2 separate regions of the Homo sapiens genome follow, and region 2 is linked to region 1. The links come from fine-mapping of genetic effects on gene expression. A gene starts in region 1. The other region holds a variant in brackets. All regions are shown on one strand. Distances are between the middles of the regions.

The links. PIP is the estimated chance that this variant, and not a neighbour inherited with it, causes the effect.
Region 2: its variant is fine-mapped to the expression of CHST15 in whole blood (TOPMed, PIP above 0.99).

Annotation. Positions count from the first base shown.
Region 1 is chr10:124,091,852-124,094,754 of GRCh38, forward strand. CHST15 (carbohydrate sulfotransferase 15) reads right to left here and starts at 1,747. Exons shown (of 8, transcript NM_001270764.2): 1 at 1,618-1,747.
Region 2 is chr10:124,035,854-124,038,756 of GRCh38, forward strand. It overlaps CHST15 (carbohydrate sulfotransferase 15), which reads right to left. Exons shown (of 8, transcript NM_001270764.2): 5 at 2,662-2,818. Among named protein-coding and RNA genes, the nearest start is that of CHST15, 56 kb to the right of the region's middle. RefSeq lists a silencer at 318-367. The variant T/C (reference allele first, on the strand shown) is at 1,564.

The DNA.
Region 1 (2,903 bases):
CGGCAACCCAGCCCCAGCCTTCCTCCTCTATACCCGCCGTCCCAGCCGCGCCGGCCGGCCCCGGGCGCAGGGCGGGCGGGAACGTGGGCACCCGGACAGCGACGGGGAGGTCAAGCAGCTGTGCCCAGGACCCGGGCGGCTCCGAAGCCTCAACACGCACACACTCGCGCGCACGCCGGCCCATCGGTTGCCTGGAGGAGTCGGGAAGGTGCTTCCACGGCTCTTCATTCATTTTCCCAAAGGCAAGGTTCCCTTCGCCCCGGCGCCTCTATCCTGCCATCCCAGGGGGCCAATTGCGCCACAGCCCGCCACCCAGCCACCCACAGCCACCGCGTCCTATCTCCCGGCACACACAACCCAACAGACTCGCATTACATCTCCACCGCCAGCGTCGCCTCCGCGCCCCGGCCGCTGCCATCCGGCTCCCCAGCTTCGCCGCCCCGCAGCCCCGGCTCCCCGCCTCTGGCCTCACCGCGCGGCTCAGAGCTGCCTCGCTCGGCTCGCCGCACCAAGGCCGGCCAGAGACGCCGCCACCGCCGGGAAGCGCCGGCAACTCCCGAGTCACGCCGCCTCCCGAGACGCGGCGGGGCGCAGGGAGGGGACAGCAGTGGGGGCGGGGCGGGGAGGAGGAAGGAGGAGGGGGCGGGGAGCAAAAGTTCACACCGCTCGGGGCTCAGCCGCTCCCCTATCTCTTCCCAGGCCCGCCCCCGCCATCCCCCTTCCCTGAACCGGGTCCCACGGGCTTAGGCGCGGGAGAGCTCTGGCCTCCCCGCCCGGAACCGCCGCAAGGCTAGAGCCAGGGTTCTGGAAGCGCATCCGAGCTCGCAACCGGGGAGAGAGTGGCGGATGCCCACTTACCTGCCCCGGGCCGCGCCTGGAAACTTCCCCAAAGTGCGATAGGGGTGTGGGGGCGGAGCGCAAGGCTGGGGGGAATCCCCGTCCCCTACCGCCAAACGACGCGCGCTCACACCGTGAAAGCACTGGTCTGTCCGTCGGTCGGTCCCCCGCCTGCGGCTCCCAGAGCTGGGCGGTGCAGGGGCGCCCCGATTCCGACTACTGGGCTCCTTCTCCCGGACAGCCCGCCGGTGCGTTCCACGCGGCTTGCGCCCCCCGCCGGCCTCCGGCTATCCACGGCGCCACCACGCCACTGCTCGGTCCCCTGTCCCCTCGCTCCGGCCGCGTCCTCTCTGCGAGGGAGGGGGCGTGTGTCGCCGCTGGGTAACCCTTCCCGCGGGGTCCTCAAGCGCGCAGGGCGCCCGGAGCGCGGCCAGGACCAATGGCGAAGGGACTCCTCCCGCTGGGGATCGCTGAAGCCTCGGGGAGGCCGGGCCAAGGAGCCCGGGGCCCAAACCTGCCTCGGCTCGTCGAGCTCGCAAGTTCATTGTCTGCCTGGGCCGCCGCCGCCACCGCCACCGCCACCACCGCGCCGGGAGCGCCGCGGGGAGTGAGGCTGCGCGCCGCCTCCGCCGGCCCGGACTCCCTACGCCCAGCCCCGGCCGCCGCCGGCGCTGCCTGGCCCGAACCCGCGGAGGGGCGCCGGAGCCCCGAGCCCAGGGCCAGACCTCCTACCGCCGCTCCTCGCCGACCCCACCTCGGCGTCTGGCACCTAACTTGTACCTGAGAAGCCTGAGTCCAGCCCGGGAGCCTCTGCGGCTCCGGCTCCGCGGGAGCGCGCCCAGCCCCGAGCCTCTAGCCCCGCATCCAGGGCGCGTCAACCTGACTCCCCGAGCGCTGGGAGGAAAAGTTTGGGAGTGACGTGCAGACGGCGAATGAAACATCCGAGGAGAACCCTCCCCCCGCCCCATGTCGCGCTGACACACATCAGCTCCAGTCTGGAATGTGAGATCAAGGCGTGTGCGCCGAGCGGTGGGTTTGGCCCCTGCCCCCTCCCCCTCCGAGTCAACACTGCTTGTGTGTTGCGGTGATTCCAAATAAAAGCACATCGAAACCCCTGAAATCTGGCAGTGACACCTTGCCAGATACTTCTTTTTTTTAAAGACAGAGTTTCGCTCTTGTTGCCCAGGCTGGAATGCAATGGCGCGATCTCGGCTCACTGCAACTTCCGCCTCCCGGGTTCAAGAGAGTCTCCTGCCTCAGCCTCCCGGGTTCAAGAGAGTCTCCTGCCTCAGCCTCCCGAGTAGCCGGGATTACAGGCATGCGCCACCACGCAAAATAGGCTAATTTTATATTTTTAGTACAGACGGGGTTTCTCCATGTTGGTCAGGCTGGTCTCGAACTCCCGACCTCAGATGATCCGTCCGCCCCCCCAACCCAAAGTGCTGGGATTACAGGCGTAAGCCACCGCGCCCGGCCGCCAGAGACATCTTTAAGGAACTTGGCGGTCTGGAGCCAGCCCGTACATTAATATTCAAGGCCACAGCGCTGGTGAGTTCGGCGCCCTCTGTTGTATTTTTGCATCCCGGGAAGGCTGGCCCGGCTCTTTGGCCCGGCGTGTTTTGCTTCCGCGGGGGAGGTAAAGCTCTGCAGGACCCCGATCGCCACGGCCTGCCGCAGTGGCCTGGAGTCGGCTGCCCCAGGGAACCACCTGGACAGCCCGAGGGCAAGAAAGCGGCACCAGTGGCCGACTCCACTGACTCTGGGCTGAAGATGCCATCAGTTAAAGAAAAGACACATGAAATTCTGGCAGATTCGCTCAGAGGGCGCTTGGAGCACCAAGCCCAGCCTCTCAGGAAACTGAGGTCCAAGGGACAAAAAGAATCTGCAGTCTCTTGCCGGCCTGTGTCCCCGTGGCCAGAGTCCAGCACCCTCTTCCTCGAAGCAACCAGAAGTGGAAATGAAAGTGCTCCGTTAACTGTAGACTACATGCCACCGAAGGGTCATTCCTGACAGTGGCTTCTCCCCATTATCTCTTTATTGCCGGAGGCTTCATCTCGCCCCCCTGA
Region 2 (2,903 bases), 56 kb before region 1:
CCTCCTACTCTGCAGAACTGCAACCAACCACAGCCATGCCCACGTCCCCACTGGGAGCTCCAGTCTCCCAGGGCCCAGAGCAGGGCTGACACACACCAAACCCAGTCCCGACAGATGGGCCCCCACCTCTCTGTGCCCAGACAGTACACAAGGCTGCTGTGTGCACTCTCGGCCCCTGAGGTTAAGGCGTGGTCTGACCTTTCTCAGAATGAGGAACTAAGCAGCAGCGACAGGAAAACATTTGATGAGCACACCGAGCACTTGCGCCCTTCAGCTGGGGGCCGTGTCGGGGAGGGAGGCAGAGCAGCTATGCAAACACCTCCGGGGGCGGCGAGGGGTCAGCTCGAGGTGACAGTTATGTCACCATGAGAGCTCGGCTAGTGTGCGTCAGCCCTGCTGGATGGAGGGAGACCACTCAGCAGGGCCGATTTCTGCCTCCAAAACACGGGAACCAGCAGGTGGGACATGGCAAGGGACGGCAAGTCAGTGCCTGCCTCAGAACAGAGTGGAAGAAGTCCTGGGCTGGGAGATGCAGAGAGCAGGGAGCGAAACCACACCTGGCACCTGCTAGAAGGCATGGCACCGGGACAGCCACCAAGAGCTCAGGCTCAGAGCGCTGGGGCTGAGGGAGGGCAGATCCAGCCTCTCCCTGACCAGGTCATACTCAGAGCAGCGGGAGCCATGCAGACTCCACAAGAGGGACATCAGCTCAGAAGTGTGACCAGAGCAGACTTTAAAGCATGTTTCTGGGGGGCAACAATGCAAAGTGAAAGAAGCAGGACATAAGACTGTCCTGTCACACCCATGTGCACACACACACACACACACACTTATTTGCATAGAAAAGTCTGGAAGAAAATACACCAAAACATAAATAGTAGTTATCTAGGTGAGAAATTAATAGTTTGAAAACAGTTTTCCAATATATGTTCCAAAATTTCCACAACAAACACGCCTTATTGTTATAATTGGCAAATACGTGGGGCCAGGAAGGTATGCCACCTGAAGAAGGGGTCCCAGGGGTCAGTTTCCCGGGGCTGCCAGGACAAATCACCACGAACTCGTGGTGCGTAATGACAGGACTTTCTTCCCTCAGTGTCCTGGAAGCTGGAGTCTGAAACCCAGGTGTGGGGCAGAGGTGGTTCCTCTGGGATGCCAGGGGAGAATCTGTTCCACTCCTCTCCTGGCTTCTGGTGGCTGCCGGCACTCCTTGGCACCCCTTGGCTGGTGGCAGCATCACTCCAGCCTCGTCAAGAGGCATGCTCCCTGTGTCTTAGGGTGGGTGAGGGTCTACCCTGATCCAGTATGACCTCATTTTAACCGGAGTGCATCTGCAAAGAAAGATCCTATTTCCAAATAAGGTCACAGTCATACACACTGGGGGAGACAACTTCAGCTTATCTTTTTGGGGGGCACAATTCAATCCATAAGAAGATGTAGTTGGCCCAAAGGAAAATAAGACACAAAGGGCTGTGGTCCCTGTCTTTAAATATCGCCAGCCTCTCCTGTTTTGGAAGGATTAGACTTGGTCTGTCTGACTCTATGGAGAAGAAAGAGGACCAA[T/C]GAGTGGATGTTTCCCCAAAACAGACCTGGTCTCAAAATAGGAACACAGCTGTCCTAAGCTACACTGGCCATCTTGCGCGGAGAATTCCCTGACTCAGAGGGCCTCGGATTAGACAGGTGCCCCCTTAGCTCTGATGTGGAAGTATTGGAGGGAGCACTGGACCAAATAATTTTCAGGTCCTGGCAGCCCTGAGATTCTGCATTCACACAGGCATAAATGATGCAAGCAGTGCCCAGTGCCAGCCAGGCCGCCCCATAGTGGCTGTTCAATATCCCACTACCCTGGCCTCACCCACACTGGGAAACCCTTGATCTTAAAGCAAAGCTGCTCTGCTCAGCATTGTTCTTCCTTTTGGTCTCTCAAGGAAAGCTGGAAACTGTACATTCAACGCAGACAAGGATAAAGGCATCAACCACGTGGAGAGACACAGAATTCTAGGAGTTAAACCACGTGGAGAAGCTTACACCCCTGATTCTAAGGGTGTTTCCCTCGCCTTGACAGTACCAAGGAACCGTCCTGTGCCCCTGGTCAGGCCTGCTGGGGCTGAAGTCACACAGACCAGGATCAGAATGGTTAAGAAAACCATCTGCAACATGTGTCAACTCAGTGGGGACAGCCTCAAGAATAACACTTACGTAAGAAACAGCAGTAACGTTGCAAGTTCCGTTTATTTTTGTTTGTTTTTATTTTATTTTATTTTTTTTTTTGAGATGGAGTCTCACTCTGACACCCAGGCTGGAGTGCAGTTGCACCATCTTGGCCCACTGCAGCCTCCGCCTCCTGGATTCAAGCGATTCTCCTGCCTCAGCCTCCCGAGTAGCTGGGACTATAGGAGTGTGCCACCACATCTGGTAATTTTTGTATTTTTAGTAGAGATGGGGTTTCACCATGTTGGCCAGGCTGGTCTTGAACTCCTGACCTCAGGCGATCCACCCACCCCGGCCTCCCAAAGTGCTGGGATTACAGGCATGAGCCACTGTACCCGACCTGTTTAATTTTTTCTAAAGGAGACAAAATCTTATTTGTCATGAGAGGGGAACACTGTTCTTCAAAAGTTCCTCTTCTCACCCCAAATACAACACACAGAAACTGCTCACCTCTCCACAGGGTCCCTGAGCATGACAATCAGTCTGGCATTTGGCTGAAAGGCGTGGATGAAGTCCTGCGTCAGAAACGGTGGCTCGCCATCCGTGCTGTTGTCGTAGAAGAACGTCCAGGCATTATTATCCCACATCGTGGAGGCACTGGCCTCCCCTGGAAACAGAAAACACTCCAAGTGAGCAGGGGTGTGATTCAGGCTCCCACGGAGTGGCTCTAGGTGCCAGAGGCCACACCTGGC